Linked DNA regions of Homo sapiens. The protein of the gene in region 4 purifies or fractionates together with the protein of the main gene of each other region. This does not show direct contact. Each region holds a gene or a part of one and is shown on either strand. Other genes may lie near its edges. The genes, in order: LSS, VAMP7, UBL3, EDAR, ABCB1, NEIL3 and ANXA13.

Region 1 (3,902 bases), on a different chromosome or scaffold from region 4:
AGGAGGTTTTTTCTGACCAATAGCTGAGTTCTTGGGAGAGGAGCAGCTGTGCCTGTGTGATTCCTTAGTGTCGAGTGGGCTCTGGGCTGGGGTCGGCCCTGGGCAGGCTTCTCCTGCACCTTTTGTCTGCTGGGCTGAGGGACACGAGGGCAACCCTGTGACAATGGCAGGTAGTGTGCATCCGTGAATAGCCCAGTGCGGGGGTTGCTCATGGAGCATCCTGAGGCCGTGCAGCAGGGAGCCCCATGCCCCTGGGTCGTGAGCTTGCCTGCGTATGGGGTGGTGTCATGGAGCCTCATGCCCCTGGGTCGTGAGCTCGCCTGAGTATGGGGTGGTGTCATGGAGCCGCATACCCCTGGGTTGTGAGCTCGCCTGCATATGCAGGGTCTGTCATGGAACATCCCAAGTCTGTGCAGCAGGGAGCCCCATGCCCCTGGGACATGAACCCACCTGCGTGGAATGCTGTTTGTGAGGTGTCTACAGGGTTTATAGTAGTCTTGTGGACACAGAAATGCACAGGGGACACTTACGGACACAGAAATGCACAGGGGAGGCCGAGCATAACCAGGGGTGAGGGGCAGGCAGCAGTTGTAGTTACTGCCGCGGGGCACTGCTATGTGCAGGGACAGCCAGCACCCAGCCCATCACCACTCCCTGGGCTGGCTGGCAGGTATGGCACCCTGGGAGCCCGGCATATACCCAGGGCACCCCTACGGCTGCCGCCAGTCTCATGCCCAGGTGGGTGCTCTGGGCTGGAGCGAGGGCCAGGTTTTGGGCCGAGGCTTCCCCAGGCAATCCTGTGAGCTCCCTTCTAGCCTCTGACCCAGTCTGGTCTGGCTTGCATGGATGTAGGGCTTGGGGTGGGAAGTTCAGGTCCTGGCTTTGCCTTTGCCTGATGTGGATGAGCAGCTCACATGCTCAGGGCCACCTGAGACTGTCACTGCTCTCCCCTGGCTACTGGGAGGAGTCACTGAGAGCTTCGTTACCCCTGCTGCCTTGCCCAGGGCACACCCTATACCTCCTTATCTGCTCTTCCCCTCCCTGCCGCCTTCTGGGCAGGTAGCAGTCCCTGGCCTCTCCCCCTGGCTGATCACTCTCCCTCAGGCAGTGGAGATCTGCGTCTGGACACCCTCAGATCCTGTCATTGCCTGCCCAGAGTCCTTCAGGGGCACCCCTCTGCCTTGGTGTGCAGTCCAGGGCTCTCACCCAGGTGCCGCACCCTCTGGGGTCTTCTGTCCAGCTCCCTTGCCCCATGTGCTGTCACTGACTCTCCTTGGGACTCGCCTGCCTGCTCAGAGCCCTGCAGGGCTTGGTCAGCTGCCTGTTCAGTGTCAACACTTCCCTGCACATCTTAAAACTGGGCTTTATTTTCGCTGAAGGAACTGTGTTGGGACCCTTGACATCTGTCAGGTTTGCACATGCTGTTTTTTTTTCTCAGCCCACGTGTTCTCCCCCACGTGGGGTAGCAGCAGGACAGACAGTGAATCACAGAGTCTGCCCTGAGCAGAGGCTGCTGTCCCTGGGACTCCTAGCCATGGTCAGACTGTACAAAACGGTTTTCCAGAAATGAAATGTAAATCCATTTTTATACTGAAAATGTTACTGAAAGTCACTTTTATGAGCATCTGCCTTAATAAACAGACATTGATTCCCTTATCAGAAGCCTGTCACACTGTGTTTCGTTTCATCCTGGGGAGAACTGCAGATTTGGGGTTTCTGGCTGTCATACGTCACCTGCCTGTGGGGCGAGTGGGAGGCCCAGCCTGGTTTAGGGAACAAGAGTGACGTGAGGAGTAGCAGGGTGCGTCTCCAGTTACCTGAGGGAAAACAGATATTTTAAGAGATAATAGCATAGCCTATTTTAATATGTTTTAAAGGCCATAAGCATATCCAGGAAGATAAATAAACGTGATACAATGTCCACATAGGAGGAACTTTCTTTCACTGCATTGTTTTCCTTCACAGTGGCCTTCAAGTCACAGGACGCAGCGATTCCCTGCCCTCTTCGGTGTTATTACACAGGCAGGACTTCAGTGTCAGTATCCCTGCCTTCAGTCTTCTTTAGAAATCACATCTGTGTTCAATCCATTGTTTAGAGGGAGTGTATTTTTCCTGTTCCACGAAGAGGACTTTTTGTTCACAATTGGATCACAATGCAGAGGAGTCTGTTCCTCCCCCGTCGGCTTCTCGGTGCTGGGAGGGTGACCTGTCCCAGATGACTCATCACCCTGACATGCTCTTGACAAAGGACACCACCAAGAGGAGATGGCAGCTGTACCGGTGCAGCCTCTGTCTGAGGGGGATATTTGCCTCAGTGTGATTAAAAATCAGTCATGAAAGATTTTTGAATTCAGATTATTTTTATCAGGAACAGATTTTGAACATCCTGAAATCTTTTCCCTGGCATCATATTAGGTTTTCTTTGTTCACTATGATGTAAAGTTTCAGACTCTTGATATTTTTAATATCAACATAGACGGTAGGACAAGGAACGGTACCAGAAATGAGTAAAGAGACAATAATGATAAGATCGATTTATCAAGACATAACAACCCCAAATGTATATGCACTAAATAACAGCTTCAAAATACATGAAGCAAAATGGCAGAATTGAAGAGAATGAGATAAAAACAGAATTTTAACGGGTGCTTTCCGTACTTTGTAACTGACAGACATGAGATCTGTAAGGACAGAGATTTGAACATCAGCCAACACAAGCGAGCGGTCTTTAGAGGATGCTTCACCTAACACTGCTGAAGCACACGGCTTTGCAAGAGCTCGTGGCCCATGTGCTAAGGTAGACCACAGCTGGCTCACCAGGTGAGTCTCAGTATGTTAGCAAGGACGGAAGTCACACACAGCATCCTCCCCCACCACAGTGGAGTTAAACTGAATTGAAAATCAGTGGCAAAGGAGCAAAGGCAGTTCAATGGAGAAAGGACAGCCTTCAACAAATGCTGAAACAAACTCCATTTGTAAAAAAAAAATGAACCTTGACATACCCTTCACATCTAGACATACTCAAGATCAATCAGAGACCTAAATGTAAAACAAAACTATAAAACCCCTAGAACATCACATAGGAGGAAATCTAGGTGACCTTGGGTTTGGCAGTAACTCTTTAGATATGACACCAAAGGCATGATCCTCGAAAGAAAACATTAATAGGTTGGGCTTCATTAAAATAATACATTTCTGGCTCATGCCTGTAGTCCCAGCACTTTGAGGGGCCAAGGTGGGAGGGTCACTTGGGCTCAGGAGTTGGAGACCAGCCTGGATAACAGTGAAACCCCATCTGTACAAAACAGTCAGAAGATTAGGCAGGTGTGGTGGTGCGTGCCCGTTGTCCCAGCTACTCGGAACACTGAGGTGGGAGGATTGCTTGAGCCTGGGAGGCCGAGGCTACAGTGAACTGTGGTTGCGCGGCTGTGCTCTTAACTTGCGTGACAAAGTGAGACCCTGTCTCAATAAAATAATTAATGAAACTGAAACTTTCTGCTCTGCAAAGAATGTCAAGAAAATGAAAAGACAAGTCAGAGACTGGGAGAATATATTTGAAAAAGACAAAGGATCAGTATCCAAAAGAGCTCTTCAAACCCAACAATAAAACAACCTGGTTAAAAAATGGGCTGAAGGGGCCGGGTGCGGTGGCTCACGCCTGTAATCCCAGCACTTTGGGAGGCCGAGGTGGGCGGATCACAAGGTCAGGAGATAAAGACCATCCTGGCTAACACGGTGAAACCCCGTCTCTACTAAAAATAAAAAAAATTAGCCGGGCACGGTGGCAGGCGCCTGTAGTCCCAGCTACTCGGGAGGCTGAGGCAGGAGAATGGCGTGAACCCGGGAGGCAGAGCTTGCAGTGAGCCGAGATTGTGCCACTGCACTCCAGCCTGGGTGACAGA
Region 2 (4,573 bases), on a different chromosome or scaffold from region 4:
CTATGGCTAACCCCTTATACAGTTTAAGGTGTACTCTAAGCTACTATGAGAGAGACCCCCAAGATACAGTATTAATTTTAATGAGATAGTCCAGAGATGAGTGGTTTGGGATGTTGGGGTGGCTCTGCCATTTCCAATTCCCTAATTCCCAAAGCAATTAGTGCTTTCCACTTCTGGCCAAGGCAGCTCCTTTGGTGCTTGTTATATCCCAGTGCTTGCCCAGTAATTTTAAAGGCAGGGCCCAGAAGTGGCCTGATATTGTTGAGAAGCTTCCACTTACATCTTACTGTTCACTACACAGTCATGTAGCTAGCATAGCTAGAAGGGAGGCCAGGAATTGTCATCTCTGGCTATGTAGTCGTAGGCTCAACTAAAACTCTGTTACTCTGGAGGAAGTTATAGGATATCAGGGGATGACTTGCAGTCTTCCAGTCTACTCTCCTGGCCACCCAGATATTTCAGTGAACCTTTCTTCCCAAACATAGAATACGCCTCTTCTCTGAGAGAGGTAGCTCCAAAGACCTATCTAGTCACTGTGTTTGGCTCCAAGTCCAGCATGTCTAGGTGGTACACAGTCCTATCCATCAGGCCCTGGTGTGGCTCCTGTGGTCCACTGACCATAAAGTAAAAGATAAGTCATATGTTTTCCCTGCTTTCCCAGCCTAACCCAGTAGACAATGGTGAAATAAGAAAAGGATCATCACAGTGAGAGTTACAAACTCCCATTTGGAAAAGGGAAGAATGAGAAACATGTAGAAGTCATTGCTTTCCAGTAATGATCAAATAATTGCCTCACACAATTTCAAAGACTCCCTATTCTGACCAGGAAGTGGTTAGTGGTTCTGCTTTCTTGGAGGAACTCCCTCACCCTTTTTCCCTGACTCCTGGCTTTGTTCTCCAGGAAGTTTTTCCTTTCTGGCCACATCCAAAATGGTAGTTAGAGAGTATATCATCTTTGGGAATTGTACCCATTTTGTAGTCCTCTTGCTGCCAGCGTAGGTTTGTGGGCCTAGAGGTTAGGGGTTAAATAATCTTAGCTTCTTATGATTTTGGCTTTATACTTTCTCTAAAAATGTATTAGACTTACAGTCTTTGTGTTTCTAGGCAGTTCCTGGGAAAATGTCCAGGGAAAGCACATGTAGTCGTCCTTTTAGAGGCAAGACTGGGAAATAGGGCATATATCTTCCACTCATGTATTATGAGCCAGAATTTAGTCACAGCCATATGTAGCTTTAAGAGAGTATAGAATATGTAATCCAATTAAAATGCAGTTATAGTAGAAGGAGATGTTATCTGTCTGCCATGCCTCTCTGCCTGTGTCTCTGATCTAGCTGTGTTATTTCGAGCTTTGGTACCTTTTTTTCATGCTTTTGTTATCTTCTAGGAATGCTGTTCTCCCCCTAAGCCTCCTTGTAAACTTTTGCTCACTTTACAGGTCCCAAGCGAAATACTTTCTTAATTTGTACTTTAATGCTTCTAAAAGGGCAGTTCTGATCATATTCCTTCCTTCAACAGATACTGTCTGCCCTCAAGGTAAAATTCCTTAACGGGACTTGGAATATTCTTCAAGATCTGCCACTTTTTCCTTCTGTGGGCTCATCTTTTACTACTTTAGTCCTCAGTTTTGCTTTCCAGCCATACTTCATACTTAGCCATTTACAATTCAATGCTAGGTTCTTTCTCTCTTCCTAGCCTTTGCAATAGCTGTTACCTTTTACTGGAATATATTTATCTACTTAATTTTTTAAAAATCTCACTTTGTGTGCCTGAGCTTAGATGTTTCCTTTTCCAGAAACCCCTGAACATTAACACTGAGTCAGGCACCGCAATCAGACACTCTTTTTATGTGTCTACATAGCATCTAGTTTGTTCATATTGTAACACTTTTCACACTGTATTATTATTATTATTATTATTATTATTGAGACGAAGTTTCGCTTTTGTTGCCCAGGCTGGAGTGCAATGGCGCAATCTCAGCTCACCGCAACCTCCACTTCCTGGGTTCAAGTGATTATCCTGCCTCAGCCTCCCGAGTAACTGGGATGACAGGCGTGTGCCACCACGCCTGGCTAATTTTTGTATTTTTAGTAGAGATGGGGTTTCACCATGTTGGCCAGGCAGGTCTCGAACTCCTGACCTCAGGCAATCCGCCCGCCTCGGCCTCCCAAAGTGCTGGGATTACAGGCATGAGCCACCGTGCCTGGCCTCAGACTGTATTATAATTGAAATGATTGTTTATTTCTGTACCCTGACTGTAGGCTTCTTGATGGCAGGGATCATACCTTGTTACCTTTTGTGGCCTGTGCACCAAGTGACTTACAAGTCTGGTTTAGGAGAAACAAATTTTATGGGGAAAGTGATGACTTTCATTCTGGGCATGTCATGTTTAAGCTGTCTATGGTATGTCCAGTTGGATATGTCTAGTAGACAGTAGTGTAGGTAGTCCTGGAGCTCAGGAGATAGGTCAGATGGAGATTTGGGAATCATTGGCATAATTGTGGTAGCTGAAAACAAACTACAACAAAACATGAGAGTGCATGCTGCCCTCCAGGGAGTAAGTAAGTGTGAAAAAAGCAGGAGGCTAAGGAAGCTAGAAAACGTTAGTGTAGAGGGAAAGGGACTATGATATAAACCAGGTATATTAGCCTGCTTGGGCTGCTATAACAAAATACCATAGACTGAGTGGCTTGAACAACAGATACTTGTTTCTCACAGTTCTGGAGACTGCGTGAGGTGCCCGCTAATTCAGTTCTTGATGAGGGCCTTCTTCCTGGCTGGCAGATGGCCACCTTCTTGCTGTGTTCTCAGGTGGTGGAAAGAGAGTGATCTTTTTCTTCCTCTTTTTTAAAGCCACTAATCCCATCACGAGGACCCCACCCTCATGACCTCATCTAATCTTAAGTGCCTCCCAAAGGCCTTGTCTCCAAATATAGTCACACTGTAACATATGAATTTTGAAAGGACACAGTTCAGTCTATAGCACCAGGCAAGCCTGATGTCAAGAAATCTAGTGAAGATAAAACACTTTCCAAAAGGAAGTGGTCAACACTATCATATGTTTCAGAGAGAGCCACTGGATATGGCAATGTGGAAGTCATTGGTGGAAATGGTGCAAATAGTTTTAGAGTATTGGAGGAAAAGATTTTGCCTGAGTTCCTGTATCTCCTTGTAATTCATGTCAGTCCTCTGTGAACATTAATATAATTCAACAGGTACCCCTATCTATCCACTTGCCCAAGGTACAAATGTGGGAGGCAAAATTTAGTTAACCTGTCTCACGCCAGTCACCAAGTTCTATAAATGCTGCCTCCTATCTCTTCTCTGTCCCTTTTTCTTTATTACCCATTCTACTTTAGTTTATTTCCCTCCTCATTTCTTACCCGGTATACTGCAGTAGTCTCCTGTCTGGTCCTCCTTTGAGTCAGTTTTCCGCACTCTAGCCAATGTGTCCTTTGTTTTTTTTTTTTTTTTTTTTTTAATGTGTCCTTTTTAAAGTGCAAATCTGATCACACCCTCCCTAGGCTAAAACTTTTGGATGTTTATTCATTATTCTTAGGATAATGCACAGTGTGGTTTATAAAGTCTTGTATAACCTGGTTTTTGCTTACTTCTCCAGTCTTGTCTGTCCAGATAATTCACTTTTTCTTCACATTCTGTACTCTAGTCATGTGAGCCAATTTTACTTTCCTAAATCTATTAGGTGCTGTTTTACCTCTAGGCCCTTATGCTTGCTGCTTCCTCTCTGGAAAAACTCTTTGCTCACTTTTTTTTGTTGTTGTTGTTTTTTGAAACAAGGTCTCACTTTGTTACCCAGGCTGGAGTGCAGTGGCGCAATCTCAGCTTACTACAGCCTCAACCTCCTGGGTTCCAGCGATCCTCCTGCCTCAGCCTCCCAAGTAGCTGGGACTATAGGCGTGTGCCACCACACCTGGCTAATTTTTGTATTTTGTGTACAGACGGGGTTTTGCCATGTTGCCCAGGCTGGTCTTGAACTCCTGAGCTCAAGCGATCTGCCCGCCTCAGCCTCCCAAAGTGCTAGGATTACAGGCATGAGCCAGCCACCACGCCTGGCCTTTCGCTCACTCTTTACCTTGCCATCTGTTACTTATTCTTCAGGTCTTAAATCAGACATCACTTGTTCTGGGAAGTCTTTCTGGTTACCCTTTGGCAAATCTCCATTTCGTGCCTCATCTATTAATGTGTCCCCAGAGCACCATGTACTGCCTTTAACTTTCCTGTCATCCTGTTTGCCATGCTGCACTGTAATTCCTTACACTGTGATCCCTATGAAGACTGGGACTTGGTGGTTTTGCTTTTTTGTATCCTCAGCATCCAGCACAGTAACTAACTCAAAGTGGATACTCAAATGTTGAGAATTTGGTAGAAAAGATGTTTGCTTTAAGAACTTAGGAAAAAGCAAAGAAAACCATATGGCCTATTGGGGGTTAATCTTAATTACATCCTCCTCCTAAGATGTCATCTCTTGTTCATGCTTTAAGAGTCCAATTATGCTTTTGCAGCTATCGTTCTAATGGGTAATACACATGCTGTTGTGCTATGTAGCTAGAATAGA
Region 3 (4,573 bases), on a different chromosome or scaffold from region 4:
CTGATGGTGCTAATAGTTTTCACAATATAGAACATTAAATATGTTTTAGGAGACTGAAGCATATACTTAGTAAATGTGCTCTTTGATTTTCTAAGTCATCTTATTCTGGGAGGGAAAAATGAAGAGTGACTGTAGAATTCATGGTAACCTGGAAACCTTGGGTAATAAGTCATTCCGAACCAGTAAATTTTCTGAATACTTGGAGGTTGAGTGTTAAGATAGCCCAATCTAACAATGTTGGATTACCATTGCATTTGCTTAAATGAAATATACTATGCATAATTTAACTTATTTTTGATGACTTAGAGCTATGATTTGAATAATATTGCTTGCATTCAATCAGTGTTTATTGGGTACCTGTCTGTGTAATATGGTAGTAGTATTAACAGGCATAAGCTACAACTATAATACCCTCGGCACCTAATATAGATTGTGAAGCTTTATGCCCCTTCACTAGATCAGTAATTTACAAAATGAGGTGAAGCAAGTCAATTTTGAGAAGTAAATATGAGAACTTCTGTTTGTTTATTTTGTCCCCCAAAAGGGAAAAGAATTGAGCTTTTCTATTCATACTATGTGAATTGGCTGTGAGGTTCTCCTAGGTCCACCTGCATTCAGGTGGTCACTGAGAGTGTGGTTTGCTGAGGGAAGATGTGTGAATTCTAGAATGTAGATGCCAGCAACAGCACCATGAGTTTCTCAGAGTTTTTCCAGTTTTTCTGTTATATAGTCCCTTTAAAAATACTTTTTAAAAGAAGAATCTATGATACTTCTTATTGAGATGGGGAACAGAGGTTTGCTGTCAAAGCATTTAAGAGTTGTAGAACTCAAAGATTAATCACACATTTTTATTACAAAAGATGAGTATTCTATATGCTGTTCTTATCCGTGATGACAAGAGGCTACCAAAAATAAAAATCTAGCGGATGTGTTTGGGAAAAAATCCCCAAGTTGTCACTTCAAGGCAAAATCGACATTTTAAACAGTAAGTGAGAAAGTACCTGCTTTTCAAAAGAAACATGTTATGGAGAACATTTTGAAAGCATGTTGAAGTATTTACAGTCTGTTGAAAATCTTCCTTACAATGAATTTTAATTGACTTTGGACCATTTATTGGAAAGCCAAACATTTTAATTTGTAAACATTCTTATTGCAGTCAGGAAAAAGAAAATTTTAATAACATTGACATCAGGTAGCTGACTTTGAATAAAAATGTTTGCGTATTTGGTGATAGAATGAAAAAGTAATATGATTTAGTAAGTTAGTAAGTGACATGTTCTTCTATATAGATCTCATCTTTGTAAGATAAGTTTTTCAGGTATGACTTATGACAGCTCTTAAAACCAAGTGCAAAATACATTGAACTTCACAAAAGAAGAAACTAAGATTTAAAAAAATGGAGATATATTTAATAATAATGCTCACCTAATATGTTAATAGTAATAGCATTTTTAGTGATTGAAAGATTAAAACAAGTTAATATTTAAAATAGTTGATAGTTAAAATAGTAAAGTAAAAACAAAATTTTAATCTTTTAATTTCTGTTTTTAGTATATGTTTTATACTATGTGTATGTTTATAAATGAAAACACATATACTATAGGTATGTGCCTCAAGTATTTTATATTTGGGATCTTCAGTCAAAAAAATGTAGGAGCCACTGCACTAGATGACTAAAGATTTCTGAGCATTTTAACTTCTTGTGTTTGATAGTTAGAAGTTTTCTGTCTCCTGCCTTGTTGAGCAGCTGTTTTTTCCTGTGATCAGTGTGCCTACTTATTCCTAACCATTTACAGTTGCTGGTTTTAATTTGCTATGGGTGTGGAAACCATATTTCCAAAGTTTATTAAAAATAATATGTGTTTAAAATGAGCAAATGGTGTCTGAGTAGGATTTTAGGAGTTACCTCACAGTAAAGTGAGTATCTTTTGTTTCATGGACTTGATCATATCTGTTTTGGTTGCTTAGAATTCTCTTTTTAGGAGGGCTAATTTTCTGGCTGTTAGTTATGTTTTGCAGAGATGCAGTTTCTTGATAGTGAAGAACTGCTTAGGTGATAAAAAAATTACACATAACTTTACTTTGAGCTCGTAGAGGAGAGAGAACTAATATTTGTTGTGTACTTTCTAGTACCAGGCAGATGCTTGGCATTTTACATTATAGCATTTAATTTAATCCTTACAGTCACCCTGGATAAATATGGTTGGTATATAGATAAAGAAACTCTTAATACCCACCAGGTGAAGACCACCAGGAATGCATCTGTGGTGAAACAAGTTAGGTTGACTGTTTTGCAGCTAGGAAGAGCGTATGCCAGATCCTGCCAAGTGTCAGTAAAAGAGAATGGGAGGGCTGGGCACGGTGGCTCACACCTGTAATCCCAACATTTTGGGAGGCCGAGGTGGGTGGATCACTTGAGGTCAGGAGTTCGAGACCACCCTGACCAACATGGTGAAACCCCCATCTCTACTAAAAATACAAAAATTAGCTGGGCATTGTGGCAGGCGTCTGTAATCGCAGCTACTCCGGAGGCTGAGGCAGGAGAATCACTTGAACCCAGGAGGTGGAGGTTGCAGTGAGCAGAGGTTGCAGTGAGCTGAGATTGCGCCACTGCACTCCAGCCTGGGCGACAGAGTAAGACTCTGTCTCTAAAAAAAAAAAAAAAAAAAAAAAAGAAAGAGAATGGGAGGAGTTTTCAGTAGGGTTTGGGCTGTGCTGGAAGCAGGGACTCCTGGACTGAATGCTATCGTACATCAACTGGAGGTGGGTTAGTAATTGGGTCTTTCAGCAGTCTTTGTTTAGGAGACAGGATAAATGAAGGGGATTTGGAAAGTCATTGGTGAGAAAACATAATCACTTACAGAATGGGAGATTGTTGGTCATTTTGGAGCTGCAGTGTGGCCATAGGAAAAACTTTTTACCTGTTGGTCTTCTATCTTTCAGATATCACAGTCTGATTATCAACCGAGCTCATTTTTACTTTCTCACAGCCTAGGTTCAGAGAGGGTAAGGAACTTGTTTGAGATCACATAGCGAGGAAGAAGTTGAGCTAGAATAGGAGTTTGGGTCTGGTGGCAATAGTGATAAACATCTACACCCCTCCCCACAACGGTAACTGAGCAAACATTACTGAATCCCTCAGGCACATTATCCTAAGAATGCCTTAGATTCCTTCCCAATACCTTGCTCCAGGGAGTCCCTACTGATTGGTCTGAGCTAGCATGGTAGAAATGAAACCTACTTCATATATCTTTGTAATAAACTATGTAACATCTGGATTGGAATGATTTTAATTAAGGTTGGTTGTCTTACTAATTGGTAAAATTAAAGGGAGTTTCCTTTAAACTTGTTGGAACTTTGAGTCTTCTTATGTATATATTTGTTACACAGTGGATTTTTCTTAAAAAGTACTACTTTGAATGCTTTATATATATATGTAACAAATAGATTGACTTGTAAAGGATTTAGTGATTTCGGGGCATTTTGTTTTTGTCTCCATACTTTTAACTGCATATATATATGTAGAGAGAGAGAGAGAGAGAGAGAGATTCTCTATTGGTTGGTCAAATCTAGTAGCATTTTTGGTCTTAAGTAAATATATATTTGGGTAATTTTCTGACTAGATTTTGAGAAGAAAATGTTCTTTCTGCTGAAGAAAATTGTTGAAGTTTGACATTAACATTTTTGTTTATGTACTTAAGATGGCAATTTATTGTGTCTAGACAAAATGTTCTTATGATATATGTTTTTCTTTACTTTCATATAAAATTAGTGTTTTTCTTTGCCTTAGAAATAGTCTTGCTTTTGTATCCTGCTATTCTCATTGTCATGTTAAATCAAGTTTAGCCTAAAGCTGCCTCCTTACATATTTAAAGCTCAGCCTATATTATGAACATCTATCTATGCAAATAAGTATAGAACCGTATTATAATTTTGAACCGATTATGATAGATGTATATAAATTATTTAGCGAATTCCATATTCATGAGCATTTAGAAGCTATTACAAACAATGACATAATGGATATTCTTAAACATATCTCTGTGCCTTGTCTGATTATTCCCTTAGGACAAAACTCTTAGTAATGTAGTTGCTCTGTCAAAAAATATGTGTTAATTTTGGGATGGGTGGGAAAGAGAAGGATATATATTTCCTAATTTTAAAACATCCTTGAATTTCTGGATAAACCTAGCTTTTAATTTTACATTACTCAAATGGTATATGCTAGATAATACTTCATTGAGTTTTTTTTTGTTCATGAAAACAATTGGCTAGCAATTTTAATTTCTTGTAAAGTATTTGACAGATTTAGGTATCAAGGTTATGCTGACCTCATAAGATGAGTTGGGAAATGCTTTTTAATACTCTGGAAGAATTTGTGAAGATTGATTTTATTCCATCCACAAATGTTTGAAAGAATTCACTGGTGAAGCCCTCTGGAGTTTTCTTGTGAAGATTATTGATTGTATTTCGTCAGTACATAAAAAGCTATTCATATTTTCTATTTCTTTGTCAATTTTGACAAGTTTTGCTTTTCAAGAGATTTGTCCATTTTGTCTGAATTTTCCAGTTC
Region 4 (4,573 bases):
TCAACCAGGGAGGCAGAGCTTGCAGTGAGCCGAGATCACGCCACTGCACTGTAGCCTGGGCAACAGAGCAAGACTCCGTCTCACCAAAAAAAAAAAAAAAGAACAATAACGATGACTCTTTAGGGTTCATTAAACAGTCTAAGAAATACAAATATTTAGCTCCCCTCAGCCATCACTGCCTCAGGCCCATTCATGATCATGAATCCAGATCCATGAGCTCTGTGGCAGCGTCTTTGAAGGTGGAGCTTCTCTGGATCATTTGAGGGACTCTATTTTCCTTGCAGGTGTGGGAGCCACTTCAGGAGCTTCTGCCAACTTCCCTGGCACCTCGGGCAGCAGCACCCTGTCTCCCTTCCAGCACGCCCACAAAGGTGAGGAGGGTGCTCAGGTATCGATCACCTGGAGTTAGGTGGTACTCGGATGAAAGCTCAGAAGAGGAGAGGAAATGATCATGAGTGATGATTATGGTGCGCTTCCCCACCTGGCCTCACCTCCCTAATGTAATTGAATGACATGTTGCCCCCCGTGCAGGAAGTCATTATATCTGCAATCAGAGTTGATCCCTCTATGGGTGTCCTGGGACCGCTGGGAGGTGCTGGTGGTGAAGGCGGGGGCATAGCGGCAGGTGGACAGCACAGGCAGCTGCAAGCCCGGCCAGGAGGAGAGACCAGGCGTCCTGGGCTTTGGTTTGGCCGGGAGTTAACAGCAATTCTATCACTGGTTTTCATATAAACATGCTGACCATAGCACTTTAATATTAACTTGCAGAATGTACATTTCATTCTCCCTAACCAGGGAAGAAGGGATTGAGGAGGACCCCAAAGTTTAATATGTCTCTCAGAGTCAGCCCTCCAGCTGGCTTGGCCTTTCTCTCTCACTGGTTTAGTGCCAGCCCATTATTGAAGCATGTTTCGGGCCCAGGTCTCAGCGAGCCGTGAGGTACCCTCCAGAGCCCTCAGAGCACCCAGCTCGTCAGCTTCATCTCTGGGCCTCCCACGCGCTAACGCAGAGCAAAAGGCAGGACTGCTGGGCGAGGATATATGAATCTCATTTGCACAGGCCCCGGGGGGAGTAGCTCAAAACACGGAGAATATTAAAACACTTATGTCATCCAGACCTGGCATGCTAACGCTATTACAGGTATTCCCCAGATGATGCTGGGAGGCTGGTTTTCCTGCAGATGCACCCACAGGGGAGGCTCAGCGCCCACATGCGGGGTTCTCAGCTCTGGCACTACCTCCCCCGAGATGATTTGGGAGCTTCAGATGCTGGTCTCCTGTCTATTTGGGTGGTGGCAAATCTGGATCTTAGTTCAAGACAATCAGAGTCCTGTTTGGTTATTTTAGAGAATGAGAATGAGCTTCAGGGCATTTTATGCATCCAGGGTCGACATTAACCTGGGAACTGAGCAAAATCCCCCGGGGTGACTGAGGGACTGCCTGGTGGAGGCGGCAGTGCAGGTGGAATAGGTGGCCCAGCCGAGGCACCCCCTGTGCCCTGGGGCTCTTACAATGACACTTAGGTTGAAATTGCATGAGGTGCAAGATGGAGCCAAACCTGGAATCCAGAGCTGACTTTCGCATCCTGACTTTTGTTTGGAAATGCCCAAACTTGAATTGTGCTGCCTTCCAGCCACTCTTGTTCACTGGCCTTTCTTCCTCTCCACACCAAACCCTGCCCTCAGGTTGCCAAAGCAGTAGAAGCAAGAGCAAACTCCCTAGGAACAATCAGGTGACCCCAGAGAAGTCTGGAGAGGCCAGTCTGAGGGCAGCGAGCAGGGCTGTGGGCAGTCCTGGTCTGGCAGCCAAAACCAGCGCGGAGGATTTGGTTCTCAGTCTAAGCAAGCACCTCAGATTTCAGGGTTCCCTGAAAGCATCCCAGGGGCAGGGCCATTGCTTCCAGGGGCCGGAGTCCTGGAGGGAAGACCAGCAGGGATCCTGAGCTCTGGGTCATTCATGCCTTCTCTCCACCCACAGAACTCTCAGGCCAAGGACACCTGGCCACTGCCCTGATCATTGCAATGTCCACCATCTTCATCATGGCCATCGCCATCGTCCTCATCATCATGTTCTACATCCTGAAGACAAAGCCCTCTGCCCCAGGTGACGGCCCCCATGCGCCGGTGCCCTGCTTCCTGGACTCTCCGTCAACTCCCCCTGTCGGAGAGCCTGGCTGCTCACTCCCTCCTCTCTCCCCAGCCTGTTGCACCAGCCACCCGGGGAAGAGCGTGGAGGCCCAAGTGAGCAAGGACGAGGAGAAGAAAGAGGCCCCAGGTCTGTGAACCAGGGCTTCCACACACCATGTGCACGGTGCCCATCTCTGGGTGGAGGGCGTTCCCAGAAGCAGCCTCCTCGCTGCTTCTGCTCTCACATGCTGAACCATACTGTGCTTACCGTGGGGTGGTGCCACACAGACACCGGGCAGCTCTGCCCAACAGGAAGAGCAGGGTTGGGCTGAGCGCAGAGCCATGAGCCAATTCTAACTCCTATCTCCCCAACCTCCCCATTTCCCTGCAGACAACGTGGTGATGTTCTCCGAGAAGGATGAATTTGAGAAGCTGACAGCAACTCCAGCAAAGCCCACCAAGAGGTATGTGGAAGCCCCCAGCACCAAGCTGAAGCTGGGGTCCTGTGGATCCTGAGCAGGGAGGGGAACCAGGGTGCAGCCGAGTGAACTGACAGGCTAGCCTGGGACACTATGGGGACGTTCGGCGACAGACAGTCCCCACCACCTCTTTGCTGACTGGCAGGGGTCAGGTGGTGTGAGGAGCCTGTGGAAACAGCTGCCTGCTGCTCTCGGGTCAGGCCCCTGTCCCTGCATCCTGCCAAATTCCCTGGGCCTTCCTCCTTAACATCCGAATTCCTCATGCCCCTTCTCCAGACTGGGAGGGCAGAACATAAAGCCAAGGATGCATGCCTGTTGCGGCCAACACACCAGTACCACCCGTGCCGGTGCCAGTACTGCTGCCACCGTAATGCTGGTAACAACCGTGGTGATGACGGCTAACAGCATTTGGTGCCTACTGCCCACCAAGTGCTGGGCTAGGGCTGTGAACACATCCTCCCTCCACAGCCCAGGAGCAAGGTGCTTGTATCATCCCTGTTTATAGGATACCACACTGAGGTATGGAAGTTGTCACTCGCCCAAGGTCACACACTAGTGAACAGCAGGGCTGGGGTCCGAGTCCAGGCTCCCAAGGAGCCACATGGTGTAAAGAGGCCTCTGGAGGAGGAGATTTGGCAGGTGAAGCCTTTCCCGCGTTTACCACACATGAAGGTGTGGAACCAGCCCCTGCTCTAAAATCGAGGGTAGAGGGAAGTCAATATTTTATTCATCCAGTGGGATGGTCATTTGGACTTGGTCCTGCGTAGCTTCCAAAAATCAACCCCACAGCATCAGCTCCCAGCCAGGCAATGTGCTCGGACCCCCCTGCCAGGCCTCTGCCCGACAGCCACTGCAGGCTGCGCCTGGAAGGACACCCCCGCAACAGTGCCTCCCTTGGCAGATGGGGCACAGAGGCCACCAGAAGGTCACCAAACTGGTTACAGGAAGAGCAGAGGTTAAGCCCTCCTCTCCTGCCCCCACCCCATGATCTTCCTATGATTCACCTTGCAAAGCCATTCCAATCGATCCAGCATCTGTGTGGAGATCCTGTGTGCCAGATCCAAGCTGCTGCTCCCAGGACCAAGGGCAGGACCTGGTCACCCTGCATGGAACTCTTAAATAGGGCCTCCCTAGAGACTGAATTTGCTCCTCAGCCTCCAGCCCAGCCTTATCTCATTCTGTCTCAGCCTCTCCCTTCTGATATTCAGGCTTTTCTTATTCCCAGAAATCAAAAAGGCAGAGACGTGCCCCATGACTTGAGTTGCAGTTGAAGACAGGGAAAATTTGGAGGCCCTATTAGGAAAAAATATATACTGCTTTCATACACGAATATTAAATACAAATTGAACCCTGACACTTGTACGTTAAAAGACAGCAAGGCACTGAGCTTTTGTCCCTGCTGTTTGTCCTTAGGTCTCAGAGACAGGACCTGGGGTGCCACCTCACCTGCTCCACCTCACCTTCTCTCGAGTGGGGACAGGGATGGGTCCTACCACCTCCTTGTGAGGCCCTGAAGCCTGATGAGGAAGTGGGTCCCACTGGGGCTTCATGATGGTTCTCATTGTCTTTGTATTACCCTGTCTCTAGGGTTGTGTTTGCATATGGGCTTCACTGCTGTAACCTAGTTACTAACAAATATAATCCTTTTTTTAAGAAAAAAAGGTCTTCAGCCAAACCACAGGAAGCAAGCAGGATGCCTCTAAAAAAGAATATTGTTTTTCATATACTTGGAATGGTTTTAAGAGAGTTTAAGCTCCAACCCACATGTGCCTAGGGCAGACCCTGGGTTCTTTGTGGGCTGTGAGCCACAGGGCGGCATGAACCTGGGCTTGGTGGGTCCGACCGCCCACCCAGCTCACCCGCTGGGGCTTGCTGTGCCACCCCCTGCAATGCACACAGGTCAGCCAGGTCACCCCCCTAGTCAAGAGGGGGCTTTCCAGGCACAAGGCTCCATTCAGCTCCCTTTTCA
Region 5 (4,573 bases), on a different chromosome or scaffold from region 4:
TGAAATCACAGATTAAGCAAAATGAGGGGAAAAATAGTAACCAGAATCCCATCGGCCTCTATTTTGGTTCACAGAATGTTTAGTAAGCTGCTTTTTTTCTCTCTCAAAAATTTATTAAGCACATTGACAGGATGTTAAGGAACATTCAAGTGTTGTTTTATTAGAGACAGGGAGAGTTGAAACAAATATGAGTTCATCTTTGAATTCTACTGTGACATCTCAACTTGGAACACCTTTGGTTATAATGTCTCCATCTCCACATTCTCGGTCCTCACAGAATTATCCCCGTTACTATCACGTGCTGGAGATCAAAGGCACAGTGCCCGGCACACGGCAAACACTCAAATGCTATTTGGTGAATGAGTCATATGGACTCCAGAATTGCAGGACAGTCAAACTCTGTTGATAGTCAATAACCTGTCATGGCTTAGGTAGGTTTTCAGTATCACAGGCTATCTGCCCCTTTCCTGGAAATAAGAGGTTTCTTATTTCGCATAGAGTCTTCAAGTGGCATTCAACACCTGGAAAATTATATATGGACCTTCAGGTTGTATTTTTCTCTTCTTGGCAATATTACAAACTCTCAAAACCTAAATAACAGGGTTATCCACATAGTCAAGTTTTGAAGATCACAATGAAGATGAACTTTCACATGTGTCTATATTTCTATTTTTTAATTTAAAAGATTAGCAAGTGTCTTCAAATGAAAATGTATTCATCAACATTTAAAATAAGATCAGAGAAATAAATAGAAATTGAACAATAAAACAAACAAATAGAAAAAGATTTCAAAGAGGCCCAATGCTTTTATTTTAATAGCTGAAGGAATCACCTAGAAGCTATCAGAAATTTCCTTTTCTAAGACCAATATTAACAAGAATTAGTAGTAGAATGTTCTTATGCTTATAAATCAGGTTGGTTTGAACTAAGCCTCACTGACCTTATCCAGAGCCACCTGAACCACTGCTTCGCTTTCTGTGTCCAAGGCTGACGTGGCCTCATCCAGCAGGAGGATCTTGGGGTTGCGAACCAGGGCACGTGCAATGGCGATCCTCTGCTTCTGCCCACCACTCAACTGGGCCCCTCTCTCTCCAACCAGGGTGTCAAATTTCTACCACAGAAAACCCAGAATGATTTAGCATAAGGACAAGCTATCTCAGCTCATATTTTAAATTGGTAAGGAATCCTATACACAGCCCAAGTCTCACAAGTAATACAGGTCCAGTTCTTTAAATCTTATTTAACACAATAACCAACCTCAGTTTTTAAAAATGTATCTACGACCAGTTGATACTGCTAGAGCTTTCAAATCTGAAGTAATCTTACTTTCCCTTCTTAGGATTTCCCTTCTTCCGATTTATAGTAGTTTCCTAACTTCCTGCATAGTAGGCCTGCATTTTATTTTTTGCACCTCTAGAAAGGCAAAGGGCAAGGACAACTTACATGAGGCAGTTTCATGATAAAGTCATAGGCATTGGCTTCCTTGACAGCTTTCTCAATCTCATCCATGGTGACATTTTCACGGCCATAGCGAATGTTTTCAGCTATCGTGGTGGCAAACAATACAGGTTCCTGACTCACCACACCAATGATTTCCCGTAGAAACCTTACATTTATGGTCCTAATATCCTGTCCATCAACACTGACCTGGAATAAAAAGTAAGTGTGACTTTCATACATTTGTAATTGAAAGGGCAACATCAGAAAGATGTGCAATGTGACTGCTGATCACCGCAGGGTCTAGCTCGCATGGGTCATCTCACCATCCCCTCTGTGGGGTCATAGAGCCTCTGCATCAGCTGGACTGTTGTGCTCTTCCCACAGCCACTGTTTCCAACCAGGGCCACCGTCTGCCCACTCTGCACCTTCAGGTTCAGACCCTTCAAGATCTACCAGGACGAGTGAGAAAAAAACTTCAAGGCAATTCACAGACACAGGATATAGGAACTGACTGTTCACTAGGTTTAAATATACATGCACTTTTTTATAATCTCTACAAGAAAACATCAGAAACTCTTCATTCAATAGATTAATTGTTGATTAATCATTTATCACTGTACCTTAACTTCTTTTCGAGATGGGTAACTGAAGTGAACATTTCTGAATTCCAAATTTCCCTTAATATTATCTGGTTTGTGCCCACTCTTCGAATAGCTGTCAATACTTGGCTTCTAAACAGAATCAAATTTTAAGAGATTACTAGGTTACAATAACTACTTTTAGTGATATTTTGTGGAGAGCTGGATAAAGTGACAAAGAAATTGACTTAACTGGACAATCTTTTAGATAGGTGGATAGATGGCCAACTCAGACTTACATTATCAATTATCTTGAAGATTTCATAAGCTGCTCCTCTTGCATTTGCAAATGCTTCAATGCTTGGAGATGCCTGTCCAACACTAAAAGCCCCAATTAATACAGAAAAGAATACCTGAGGAATGTGAAGAAAAACCATCAGGCTACTGAGATAGTGACAGCAATTTTTTTTCATACTTCTTCTGTCTTTTTCTAACATAGGTAATTAAAATTTAAAATGGCGAGGCAACATATAAATACTAGGTGTTAAAAATATTTTAAAAGTTTGTAACTAACAGTACATTTAATTCCTTTTTTCATTTTTTTTCCTTTTTAAGAGACAGGTTCTCATTCTGTCACCCAGGATGGAGTGCAGTGGTGCAATCATAGCTCGTCATAACCTCTACCTCCTGGGCTCAAGCAATCCTCCTGCCTCAGTCTCCCAAGTAGCTAGGACTACAAGCATGCACCATCACACCTGACTAATTTTTTTTATTTTTTCTAGAGACAGGGTCTCGCTACGTGTCCCAGCCTGGTCTCCTGGCCTCAAGCAATCCTCCTGCCTCAGCCTGCAAAAGTGCTGGGATCACAGGCATGGGCCACCACACCCAGCCAAGAGTAAATTTCAAATGTGTCACCTCAAAAGGTGTCAAGTGAGGAGATAGATATGTTAATTAGCTTGCTCTGATCACTCCACATTTTGTGTGTATGTGTGTGTATACATAAACATCACATTGTATTCCGTAAGTGTAATGCAATTATGATTTGTCAATTAAAAATAGCATAAAATTTTTTTAAAAAAATTTTAAGACAAGGTCTTGCTTTGTTGCCCAGCCTGGACTGCAGTGGTGCAATCTTGGCTCACTGCAACTTCAACCTCTGGGTTCAGACAACCCTCTCACCTCAGTCTCCGAAGTAGCTGGGACTACAGACAAGTGCCACCATATCTGGCTAATTAAAAAAAAAAATTATAGAGATGAGATCTCACTATGTTGCCCATACTAAAAATATTTTGGAAATATAAATACTTTTCAATTTAGAATGCAGAATTAGTCTTACTTGCTCAATAAACAATGATTTAAATTTCACAGGGCTAGAATATTATAATAGGATATTTTTATATTTCTTCAATGTCTAGTTTTTTTTTTATTTAGATCATCAGTAAGGTAAAGTGGAAATAAATGCTAGCAGAGGAGTCAGAAGACCCAGTTCTGAATCCTAAATTAGTAATAACTAGTTATATGTTGTTAGGCCATTCTCTTAGAATCTTTGGCTTCAATTTCTTCATTGGCAAAAACAGGCAAGATTCTATCTGTTCTCCCTACCCAGCAATCATAGAGATGTTGTATCATGATAAAACAGTGTATATGAACATTTTTTGTTAATTATAAAGCACACACACCTAAGACACTGATCCTTTATCAGGTTGTCTTTTTTGCCACAAGGCCGTGTTCTCTTTAGGCCTTTTGTTTTTTTGTTTTGTGCAAATCAGTTTCTTATTGGTAAAGACTTAACTGTGTTTCTCTTTGGGGTTGATGAGAATTAATGTCATTATTCATTTTTTCTAAATCACATGGAATTATATTGCTCAATAATTTACACAGAAGGAACTTTGCTAAGTGATTCTATATTCATTATCTCAGTTAGTCCTCAAAACACGCTGAAAGTTAGGGTTCATTCCTGTCATATCATTTGGCAGAAGAGGTAGCAGAGGCTTGAAAAGTTTAGCTGGCTGCCCTAAATCATACAGCTAATAAGTGACAAAGCTGCCATTTGAATCAAGTTGGTCCGATATCAAACCCCACACTCCCTATTTTGGATGCCTCCAGTGTGTGAAGTATATTCATGCCCAGTGAACACTGGATTTAAACTGCTTATCTCAATCACAGTTAAACAGAAAACATCTGTTATGACAACCAAGGATCACCCACAGCATCACTATACTAAAAAAAAAAAACTTCATGGGAAAAGCCATTCCCCACTGAGCAATGTTGGATAAGGCAAATTTGAAAAAAAAAGAAAAAGAAGTGATTATTGAATCCATATTACAAATCTGGCTCCTGAAAAAGGGAATTGTTTTAAGGGATTCTACAAAATATCATCTCTCATTGCCTCAATCTATTTCTGCTTGGCCTACGAAAAAGGAACTAAGTGACTCTTCTAACAGTGTATTTTATTAGATCCAGATATGAATTGAGTTTGGTTTGCAAATTATTTCATTGTCTTTAAAATAAAAGAGGATAACATTAAATGGCAAGACTTCTGTGCTTGCACAAAG
Region 6 (4,573 bases), on a different chromosome or scaffold from region 4:
AGAGACAGAGGCAGCCCCTCTGCTTGGGAGGGACCAAGGAGCATGCAGAGTCGGCTTGGCCAAGGCAAGTTTCTGAGTAGACTGGGGAGCCTTTGGAGGGTTTTGAACGGGCGTGAAATAACTGACTTAATGTTTGAAAAGATTAATCACTCTGGCGACTGTTGCCAATACTTTTGAGCTGGGAAGCCACTGGGAGAGTTTGAGCAGGAGGGCAGCATGAAGTGACTTGGGTTTTCTGAGGATGATTTGGGCTGCTGTGTGGAATAGAGACGGTCATGGAACCAGAGTGAAGCGGCAGCATCGGGGGCTCTCAACAGTAGTGCAGGTGGTAAATGCTGGTGACGGGGAAGAGAGAGAAGGTGGTGGGAAAAAAAGGTTGAATTTAGGATAATTTTGGAAGTTGAGTTAGGGTTAAGGCCAGAAATTTATATAATTTGGGGGCCCTTATTTATGAAAAACAATAAAAAATTATGACTACAACGTTAGGTCCTAATGTGAATATGTAGAATAAGAAATCACAACAAATTATATTTTTTAAACACCACAAACATCAGAAAAATGAGATATTATTAGTTCACTGCCTGACACAGCTGTGTAATTGTGTTCCTTTATGTTTTTGGCTGCAAACTCCTTGATTGCCTTTTCATATGACCACCAACAATATCATTACATCTTTTATTACGGCTAGATGAGAAAACTTTTAGCTTCACAATTGGCTGTTGATAGTGACACATCTCCAACTTCCTCTATCTTTTCTTTAAGCAGTACTTCTCTGTAAGGAAACCCTAAGAGCAGTGCCTCTCAAACTTTAGTGTGTACCAGCATTTTCTGAAGGGCTTGTGAAAACACAGATTGCCGGGCCCCACCCCTAGAGCTGGGGATTCAGTGGGTCTGAGGAGGGGCCTGAGAATCTGCATGTCTAACACGTTCCCACATGACGCCCATGCTGCTGGCCTGAGGACTTGACTTTGAGAACCCCAGCCCTTTGATCTTCCTCAGGTGCCTCAGGTTCCCCCCCTCTACCAGGTTGTTTCTGAGTTAGGGTGGGTAGTATAGGGGTAGAGTGGCCTGGCAGCCTGGATCATGGTGGCCTGTGAGCTCGGAACGATGCAGTATCTTTTGTTCAGGTCCTTCTCCTCAAGCCTCAGGGCAGAGTCCGCCTGCTCCTTGAGGTCACCAGGGCAATAGTTTCCCTGGGCACTGAACAGATGTGAGGTGATGCTGGCAGCACCCAGGCGCCAGGATTACCGCTGCCTGCAATCCTCTGAGTCCCCAGCATGTGGTCGAGTTATGGCTCCCATTCTCCATGCTGCCCACCCCAGTGTGCAGAGGACACGTCAAGCCATGGAAAGTTAAACTTCTTTTGCTTCATGTAAATTTGCATCTGCAGCAGATCCCACGGGATTTGCTGATGGACTGGAAGTGGGATGTGAGAAAAGGAAGTGTTAAGGATGACTTCTAGGTCTGGGCCTGATGAATTGAGCGATACTGATGCCATTTCCTGACATGAGATAGAATAGTAGAATTGCAGATTGGTGGCTCATGAATTTTTTTTTTTTTTTTTTTTTTTTTTTGACACGGAGTCTCGCTCTGTCACCCAGGCTGGAGTGCAGTGGCGTGATCTGGGCTCACTTCAAGCTCCGCCTCCCGGGTTCACGCCATTCTCCTGCCTCAGCCTCCCGAGTAGCTGGGACTACAGGCACCCGTCACCACACCTGGCTAATTTTTTTTTTTTTTTTTTTTTGTATTTTTAGTAGAGACGGGGTTTCACCGTGTTAGCCAGGATGGTCTCGATCTCCTGACCTTGTGATCCACACGTCTCGGCCTCCCAAAGTGCTGGGATTACAGGCGTGAGCCACCGCGCCCGGCCTCGTGGGTCATGAATTTTGTCTGTATTCATTTCCGCTGGCTGCCATCATAAATTATCATGACCTTGGTAGCTTAAAGCAACAGAAATGCATTCACTCAAACGCTGGATGCTAAAAGCTCAACATCAGTTTCATTGAACCAAAATTAAGGTGTGGGTAGGACTGTGCTCCCTCTGGAGGAACTGGGGGGAATCATATTCCTTTCCTCTTCTCGCTTCCGGTGCTGCCAGCGTTCTTTCATGTGTGGCTACATCACTGCAACCTCTGCCTTTGTGGTCTCCTTGCCTTCTCTTTGGTGTGTATCAAATCTCCCCCTCCCTCTCTCTTATAAAGACACTTGTGATTGGGTTAAGGGACCATCAGCTAATCCAAAATAATCTCTCTACGCCAAGATCCTTAATTACATCTGCAAACCCTCCTTCTTTATAAAGTAACATTTATAGATTCCTGGAATTGTGCCCTATGTCTTTGGGAGGCCATTATTCATCCTACTACAAAACATTAAGTTTGGGATTCTTCTTACACATCCAAGTGGAGATTGGGAAGAATTTATTAATGAGTGATTAAGAAATAGAGCAGTAAAGAAAGGAAAGAATGTTTCCAAAGCCTCCATATGTAACAATAAAATTCTCCTTATGATCAGGGAAACTTTTAGGACAGAAGAAAATGAAAATAGGGAAAAGTTGGAGCACATGGAAAATCTAAAAGTCATTTAAATTGTGTTTGTTTAATTATAGATAAATGCATCATGCTGCCTTTCAAAGTAAGTTAGTAGAGGACAGAGATTAGGTCAAATAAACAAATTCTGTAGAAGATCTGATATTCCATAGGGATAATAAATACTGAGTGGCATTAAAAGTCAAGGGAAGTAAAGATAAAAGAATCCTAATGAGATGTATCTTACTTTCAGATTTTCTTATTCTATTTATTATTTTACCAGACACTCCTGAATTTTAAAACTAGTGTAATTATATGTAAGGAACAAAATGTCACAGGAGACAAGGTTACCTTTGAAAGTCAAAGAACTCATGTTCTGAAATGTAAGATACATAGCCTTTACCTGCAAGAGCTTTGTTCAGTATTAATGTTTGGGATCATGAAGGGAATCCGTGATACTGCCATGGTTGCTTAACTGTGTGACATGCTCTATATCCAGACCTATAGCTAGCTGTGCATTAGAGAGTAGGACTATGTCACAGCCGTATAAAGGCATTTTGTGTAAAAATACATGGTCAATGAAGGACTTCAGATGGAGAATCATGATTTATATTTGTGGCCAAAAATCAGGGTTTTATTGTTTGCTTGCTAATCTATTAATTGGCTATCCACCATGAAACAGTCTTACATGAAGGGAAACAACACAAAGAGATATCTTTTTTCATCATTATGAATTAATGAATTTACATAGTGCTCAGCAGATACTGTAGAGAAATTCTAGAGTTTCCTGAGTTTTCTGTGCACATGAAGTAAATATAAAACTTTCACATCTTTCAATCCTCTAATTTCTGCATAGGTGTATTTTCCCATAATTTAATTGAATAAAGGTATTTTCATTTTGTTTGGGAAAAAAGTACCAATTACTTAAAACATTATTTGAGAAATACTTCCTAATGTGATATCAAATATTTTTAGTTGGTTTAAAAAAAAGCTACTCGATTATTTGACTCTAAATAACTTTTATTTGATGTTTCTCACTTTAACAACAATTAGTTGTTAAAGGGGGGTCCAGGTGAAAACATTTTACTCTGGCCAGGTGCAGTGGCTCATGCCTTAATCCCAGCGCTTTGGGAGGCTGAGGCAGGAAGATTACTTGAGGCCAGGAGTTCAAGACAGCCTAGGCAACACAGCATTCCATCTCTACTAAAAATTTAAAAATTAGCCAAGCAGACCAATGTGCACCTGTAGTCCTAGCTACTCAGGAGATTCAGGTGGGAGGATTGTTTGAGTCCAGGAGTTCGAGGCTGCAGTGAACTATAATGGTGCCACTACGCTGCAACCTGGATGACAGAGCAAGACCCCATCTCTACAAAAAAAAAAAAAAAAAAAAAAAAAAAAAAAAGACTCTAAGATACAGTACTAACTTCCAAGCAATAATAAAGAGATAGCATTGGGGTATTAATGGTTCTATAATCATTTCTAAAATATCCAGACAAGAACAAGGCAATAATAACAATGATTAATTTTAAAAATTATCTTATAGCAAGCTACCGACTAGAAATACTATAATCAGTTGGACATCTAGCAGGGTGGATCATGTTATGGACTCCGTGGCTCGGAAGTCGGAAGAGCACTGGACCTGTGTGGTGTGTACTTTAATCAATAAGCCCTCTTCTAAGGCATGTGATGCTTGCTTGACCTCAAGGCCTATTGGTAAGACTGAATTTTGATTTTGAGTTTGTTACATTTCTAAGAGGGTTAATTATACAAAGTCAGGAATATATCTTGCTCCATCTTGATATTCCATAACTAAATAAAATTTCTTTCTCAAAGGTTTAAAGGAATTGCCAGTTTTCACATGTAAACCATGCTAATATTCTGTTGAGTATTTTTTTTGAACAGGGAGGGAAAGCATGTTTGTGCTATAACAGTATGTGCCTTTGTATCTCAAAAAAATGGAGATGATCACATCTGTTCTCTACTGTTTCTAATGAATTATTCAATAAAGCTTTGTTTTATGCAGATTTCAGCAACTTTCGAGTTTGTTA
Region 7 (4,573 bases), on a different chromosome or scaffold from region 4:
CTTACACACATGGTGTTTCTATTAAATCTCCCTCTGTTCACTCTTCTTTCATCATTAGCCTGCAATTATTGAAGTATGGCTGTTTGGCATATAAACAATCGTAAATACAAACACAAATGCAGACATTTAAATCATGAGCCAGGACTTGGTCATCTTGATGATCTAGGATGCTTTATATTAATTTTTAAGTTATTATCAGCATGAAATGCAAAAGACTCCTAGAAAAGTTTTTATTCCCCCAAGAATATGTCCACAGACCAGGGCCCATAGATAATTGACAACTATTATTGCAGAGCCAGTAGAATATTGGCCAGGAAATTGCATTTTTCAAGGTACTATCATCTGAAATCCTAACCAATCCTGAAACGAAAATTACTTTTGTGCTATCCTCAATTCTTTTGCCACTATTAATGATTTTTTTGAACCAAAGACCTAGTGTTTGTAACTAACCTATGTGGAGCAGCAGTAACCAAGATACTGGGTCATTATCATCCGCCAAATCACACAATGTTCAAAGAATTTCCTTATCCTGGAGGACATGTCCTTGTGTCCAGTGAGCTTTGCAGGTAGAGTGTACACAGAGAGAAAGATCAGATCAGTGGAAAAATCTGCTTAGGTTTAGCTAGATGACTCTTCTATTGTCTGGGTTTTCACAAGAATCACTATCTAGGGAAAAATACAGAAGTGAGATCAATATTAAGATTACTTTACCACGGGAGTGTGGCTATAGGATATGTGCAGAATGACAGAGGGAGGGAGACCTAGTAGAGCCATTGATAAATGTGGAAATAATCACAAACTCAAATGGACTCATGATTTCTGGGAAATTACTTGCAAGGCTAATGAACAGGCAATAGAAAGGACTACAGCCCTGCTACTCAAAGTATGGTCCCTGGATTTGTAGCAGCATCCACATTGCGTGGGCACTTGTTAGGAATGCAGATGCTCAGCCCACTCAGATCTATTGAATCATAGTCTGCATTTTAACAGACTCTTCAAGTGATTTTCAGGCACATTAAAATCTTAGAAGCACTGGACTATGGAACGCGTTGTCAAACTTGCCTGCATTGAGATCACCTGAGGAGTTCTAAAAGCCACCGATGCCTGGGTCCCAGCCCTAGAGTCTGAATTAATTGGTCTGGTGGTTGTCCTGCGCATCAGGGTTTGTAAGTGCTCCCCAGGTGGCTCTAATGTGCAGCAGAGTTTGAGAAACACTGGACTGTAGAATATGGCTAACCTTTCAAGAAGAGCTCTGCACACTGGGGACAAAGGCAGATGGTCATTGCACATGCTCCTAACTGAAAACCGATTTGTAAATGTTAGAACATCTGTTCAGTGGTCTGCCACGTTGTTTGTGAACATGCCAAGTTTATGACTTGCTTGTGCCAATATTTAGCCAACATAAATATTGTCTCCAGTGGAGAACAGTTTGGGACTTGTGGCAGGTGAACACCAGGCAAGGTGAACACTCAGATGAACGTGGACAAAGAACATCTGAAAGCTGCATGACAAGTGGGGAAATAGATCCAGATTCCTGAGAAAAGAAGACAGGCTCTGGAGGCAGGTGAAATATGGCTGAGAATTTGAAATTAAAATAAGTATGGTCTTAACCAAGGGTGTGCATTAAACTGTGATCCCAAATCCAGAAGACCCATGATCAAGCCCTAGCAGAAAGCAGTCTAGATCATTTCAAAAGACTTAAATAAATAAATAAGATCCTTATTTATTTATTTATTTAAGATCATCTTAAATAAATAAGATTAGGAAATATTACTTTTTTTTGAGACAGGGTCTTGCTCTGTTGCCCAGGCTGGAGTGCAGTGGCACAATTATGGCTCACTGCAGCCTCAACCTCCCTGGTTCAAGCAATCCTTTTACCTCAGACCTCCAAGTAGGTGGGACTACAGGCATGTGCCATCATGCCCAGCTAATTTTTTTAAAGACGGGTCATCCTATGTTGCCCAGGCTGGTCCCAAACTCCTGGGCTCAAGCGATCCTCCCACCTCAGCCTCCCAAAGTTCTGGGATTACAGGTGTGAGCCACTGCACTTGACCTCAGGAAATCTATTATCCCAGAAAGTTAGTCCTTCAGAATGCCACTGCAAAAGTGTAGGAGGAAGTGAAAAGGGCCTTTGATGTCAAAGCATGACATGCACCAATGCATACCTTCTTCATTTAAAGACAAGTCTCTGAAGGGTAGCTACATTTTAGGTACAATTATGCAATCTTGGCCTTTTGGATATTTTGTCTATGGTGGATGCAAAAAAAAAAAACAAACCAGCCATTGTAAGGAGGTGGTAAGAAGTCGGCAGAGGACAGATACACTGATAGAAGGAAGAACATGTTAAATGAAACCTCAACACAAGAATTCTAGAGCCGCGGGAGTCTGGAGCCACTTGGTGCAGGGGAGAGAATCCTGCATGTCCCAGCAGCGTGAGCCCACCTCCCAGTGCTACAGCCACAGCAACAGGAACCAAAACTAAAACTCCCAGTGGTGATGGTTGTAACTGGAAGTTTAAACGAGATCTTCTGAAATGTTAATGATAATAACTGACATTTATAAAGTGCTTACTAGACTGTGGGCTGTTTTGAGGGTGTGAACAGTGACCCTGGAAGTTTGAGTCCTTCACGCCACCAAGCACTTCACATGTGTTACGTCATTTGGTCTTCACAACAATCCTATCAGGGAGATACTATTATTAGTCCCCTTTTAAATATGGGGAAAGTAAGGCAAAGAGAGTTTAGGTAAATTGTTCCTAGTTGGACAGCTAGTAAGAGGTCAAGCACAGATTTGGATTTAGGCACAAATTTTTAACACTATGCCTTGGGTTCAATAAAGCTTCTTTTTACGCCAAATAGAAGATTAACCTATTGGGATTTCTGAAACTGTTGAACTGAATCATCACCTCGTCATCTCTTTAGCCCCTTCCCTGAGCTTTCTCCATCCCCTGCCCCCCAAGCTGGATTGGATGCTCTTCCTTAAGGCTTCCATAGTTCTCTCTGCATAACTATTACTCCACTCCCATGTGGTTTTAGAACCATCTGGGTTTTTTGTTTTTGTTTTGTGTTTTGAGACAGGATCTCGCTCTGTGGCAAAGGCTGGAGTGCAGTGTCACAATCACTGCTCACTGCAGCCTCAGCCTCTCGGGGTTCTCCTACCTCAGCACCCCCATACCCCCAAGTAGCTGGGACCACAGGCGAGCATGACAACGCCCAGCTACTTTTTAATTTTTTGTAGAGATGGGGGGTCTTCCTATGTTGCTCAGGCTGGTCTAGAACTCCGGGGCTCAAGAATCCTCCAACCTCAGCCTCCCAAAGTGCTGGGATTGATTACAGGTGCGAGCCACTGTGCCCAACAGAACCACCTGTTTTGTATACCTGCCTCACACTGGACTGATGGTTTCCTGAAGGTAGAATTGTATTTTGTTCACCTATATATCCCCATCACCAACACAATGCCTGCAGCATGGTAGATGCTTAATAAAATTTGGATAAATTCATCAATGCATTCATTGCATTTTCTAAATAAATCTTAAACAAATCAGTGTTTTGCCCAGTTGGAGTTCAAATTCTTATATCTATTTACATTCCCAGACCAATTCATGCGCAAGGCCCTGGCGTCTGTATATTTTTAAACTCCCCAAATGATTCTAATGTATCCAAAGTTGAGAGCCACGAGTCTAACGTCAGGTATTCTAGTGCAGTAGTTTTCAAATGAGGTCTCCCAGGCCCGCATCATTGGTATAATCCAGGATCTTGTTAGGAATGCAAATTCTGGAGCCCCACCCCAGATCTACAGAATCAAAAACTCTGGAGATGGGATCCAGCAATCTGCATCTGAACAAGCCTTCCACGTGAAACTGATATGTGCTCAAGTTTGAGAATGACAGTTGAAGCATAAGCCTTTCCCATGCCCAGGCTGGGGCTGTGCCTCAGCATTGACTATGGGGAACTCCCACCATTCAACCTACAGAGATGCCCAGATGATGGCATTGAAACCCGGGTTAGCACCACACCTGCCTCCTCAGGCTTCTCACCCGGAATGCAGCCCGGAGAACTCCCCCATTCTGCTCATTTCCCCACCCCACCCAGGGTTCCCTCTCTCCCTGCTGCCATGTAAGATGTGACTTTGCTCCTCCTTCACCTTCTGCCACAACTGTGAAGCCTCCCCAACCATGTGGAACTGTGAGTCCATGAAACTTCTTTCCTTTATAAATTACCCAGTCTGGGGTAAGTCTTTATTAGCAGCTTGAAAATGAGCTAATACAGACAGCAATAATTGGATTTAGGAAATACTCTAAATCCAGGATGATTTCATTTTGAGATCCTTAACTAATTACATCTACAAAGACTCTCTTTCCAAATAAGGTGAATTCTGCGGCTGTGAGTAGACATGAGTTGGGTGAGGGGGTGGGGGTGATACTGTTCAACCTACGACACTAAGGAAATTAGATTTTATTTCCTTAGGCCAGCAGTGATTTTAAACTTCAGCACATTAGAGTTCCTTGGAAGGCTTTCTTAAATGGAGAGTTGGGTCCAACCCCCAGAATGTTGATTCAGTAAATCTAAGGTGG

The links.
Region 1: the proteins of EDAR (region 4) and LSS purify together in Homo sapiens (affinity purification with mass spectrometry; one large-scale study listed by BioGRID and IntAct). This does not show direct contact.
Region 2: the proteins of EDAR (region 4) and VAMP7 purify together in Homo sapiens (affinity purification with mass spectrometry; one large-scale study listed by BioGRID and IntAct). This does not show direct contact.
Region 3: the proteins of EDAR (region 4) and UBL3 purify together in Homo sapiens (affinity purification with mass spectrometry; one large-scale study listed by BioGRID and IntAct). This does not show direct contact.
Region 5: the proteins of EDAR (region 4) and ABCB1 purify together in Homo sapiens (affinity purification with mass spectrometry; one large-scale study listed by BioGRID and IntAct). This does not show direct contact.
Region 6: the proteins of EDAR (region 4) and NEIL3 purify together in Homo sapiens (affinity purification with mass spectrometry; one large-scale study listed by BioGRID and IntAct). This does not show direct contact.
Region 7: the proteins of EDAR (region 4) and ANXA13 purify together in Homo sapiens (affinity purification with mass spectrometry; one large-scale study listed by BioGRID and IntAct). This does not show direct contact.

What each region holds. Positions count from the first base shown.
Region 1 is NC_000021.9:46,186,885-46,190,786, reverse strand, and holds the end of LSS (lanosterol synthase), read left to right. Parts: 3' UTR 1-2,341; downstream 2,342-3,902. UniProt on the Homo sapiens protein: Key enzyme in the cholesterol biosynthesis pathway. Catalyzes the cyclization of (S)-2,3 oxidosqualene to lanosterol, a reaction that forms the sterol nucleus.
Region 2 is NC_000023.11:155,890,847-155,895,419, forward strand, and holds part of VAMP7 (vesicle-associated membrane protein 7), read left to right. Parts: intron 1-4,573. UniProt on the Homo sapiens protein: Involved in the targeting and/or fusion of transport vesicles to their target membrane during transport of proteins from the early endosome to the lysosome. Required for heterotypic fusion of late endosomes with lysosomes and homotypic lysosomal fusion.
Region 3 is NC_000013.11:29,840,236-29,844,808, reverse strand, and holds part of UBL3 (ubiquitin-like protein 3), read left to right. Parts: intron 1-4,573.
Region 4 is NC_000002.12:108,908,476-108,913,048, reverse strand, and holds part of EDAR (tumor necrosis factor receptor superfamily member EDAR precursor), read left to right. Parts: intron 1-284; coding exon 285-371; intron 372-1,976; coding exon 1,977-2,102; coding exon of another isoform or gene 2,103-2,198; coding exon 2,199-2,273; intron 2,274-2,516; coding exon 2,517-2,589; intron 2,590-4,573. UniProt on the Homo sapiens protein: Receptor for EDA isoform A1, but not for EDA isoform A2. Mediates the activation of NF-kappa-B and JNK. May promote caspase-independent cell death.
Region 5 is NC_000007.14:87,548,408-87,552,980, forward strand, and holds part of ABCB1 (ATP-dependent translocase ABCB1), read right to left. Parts: intron 2,432-4,573; coding exon 2,318-2,431; intron 2,172-2,317; coding exon 2,061-2,171; intron 1,890-2,060; coding exon 1,764-1,889; intron 1,648-1,763; coding exon 1,444-1,647; intron 1,112-1,443; coding exon 941-1,111; intron 1-940. UniProt on the Homo sapiens protein: Translocates drugs and phospholipids across the membrane. Catalyzes the flop of phospholipids from the cytoplasmic to the exoplasmic leaflet of the apical membrane.
Region 6 is NC_000004.12:177,347,312-177,351,884, forward strand, and holds part of NEIL3 (endonuclease 8-like 3), read left to right. Parts: intron 1-4,068; coding exon 4,069-4,238; intron 4,239-4,573. UniProt on the Homo sapiens protein: DNA glycosylase which prefers single-stranded DNA (ssDNA), or partially ssDNA structures such as bubble and fork structures, to double-stranded DNA (dsDNA).
Region 7 is NC_000008.11:123,730,372-123,734,944, reverse strand, and holds part of ANXA13 (annexin A13), read left to right. Parts: intron 1-4,573.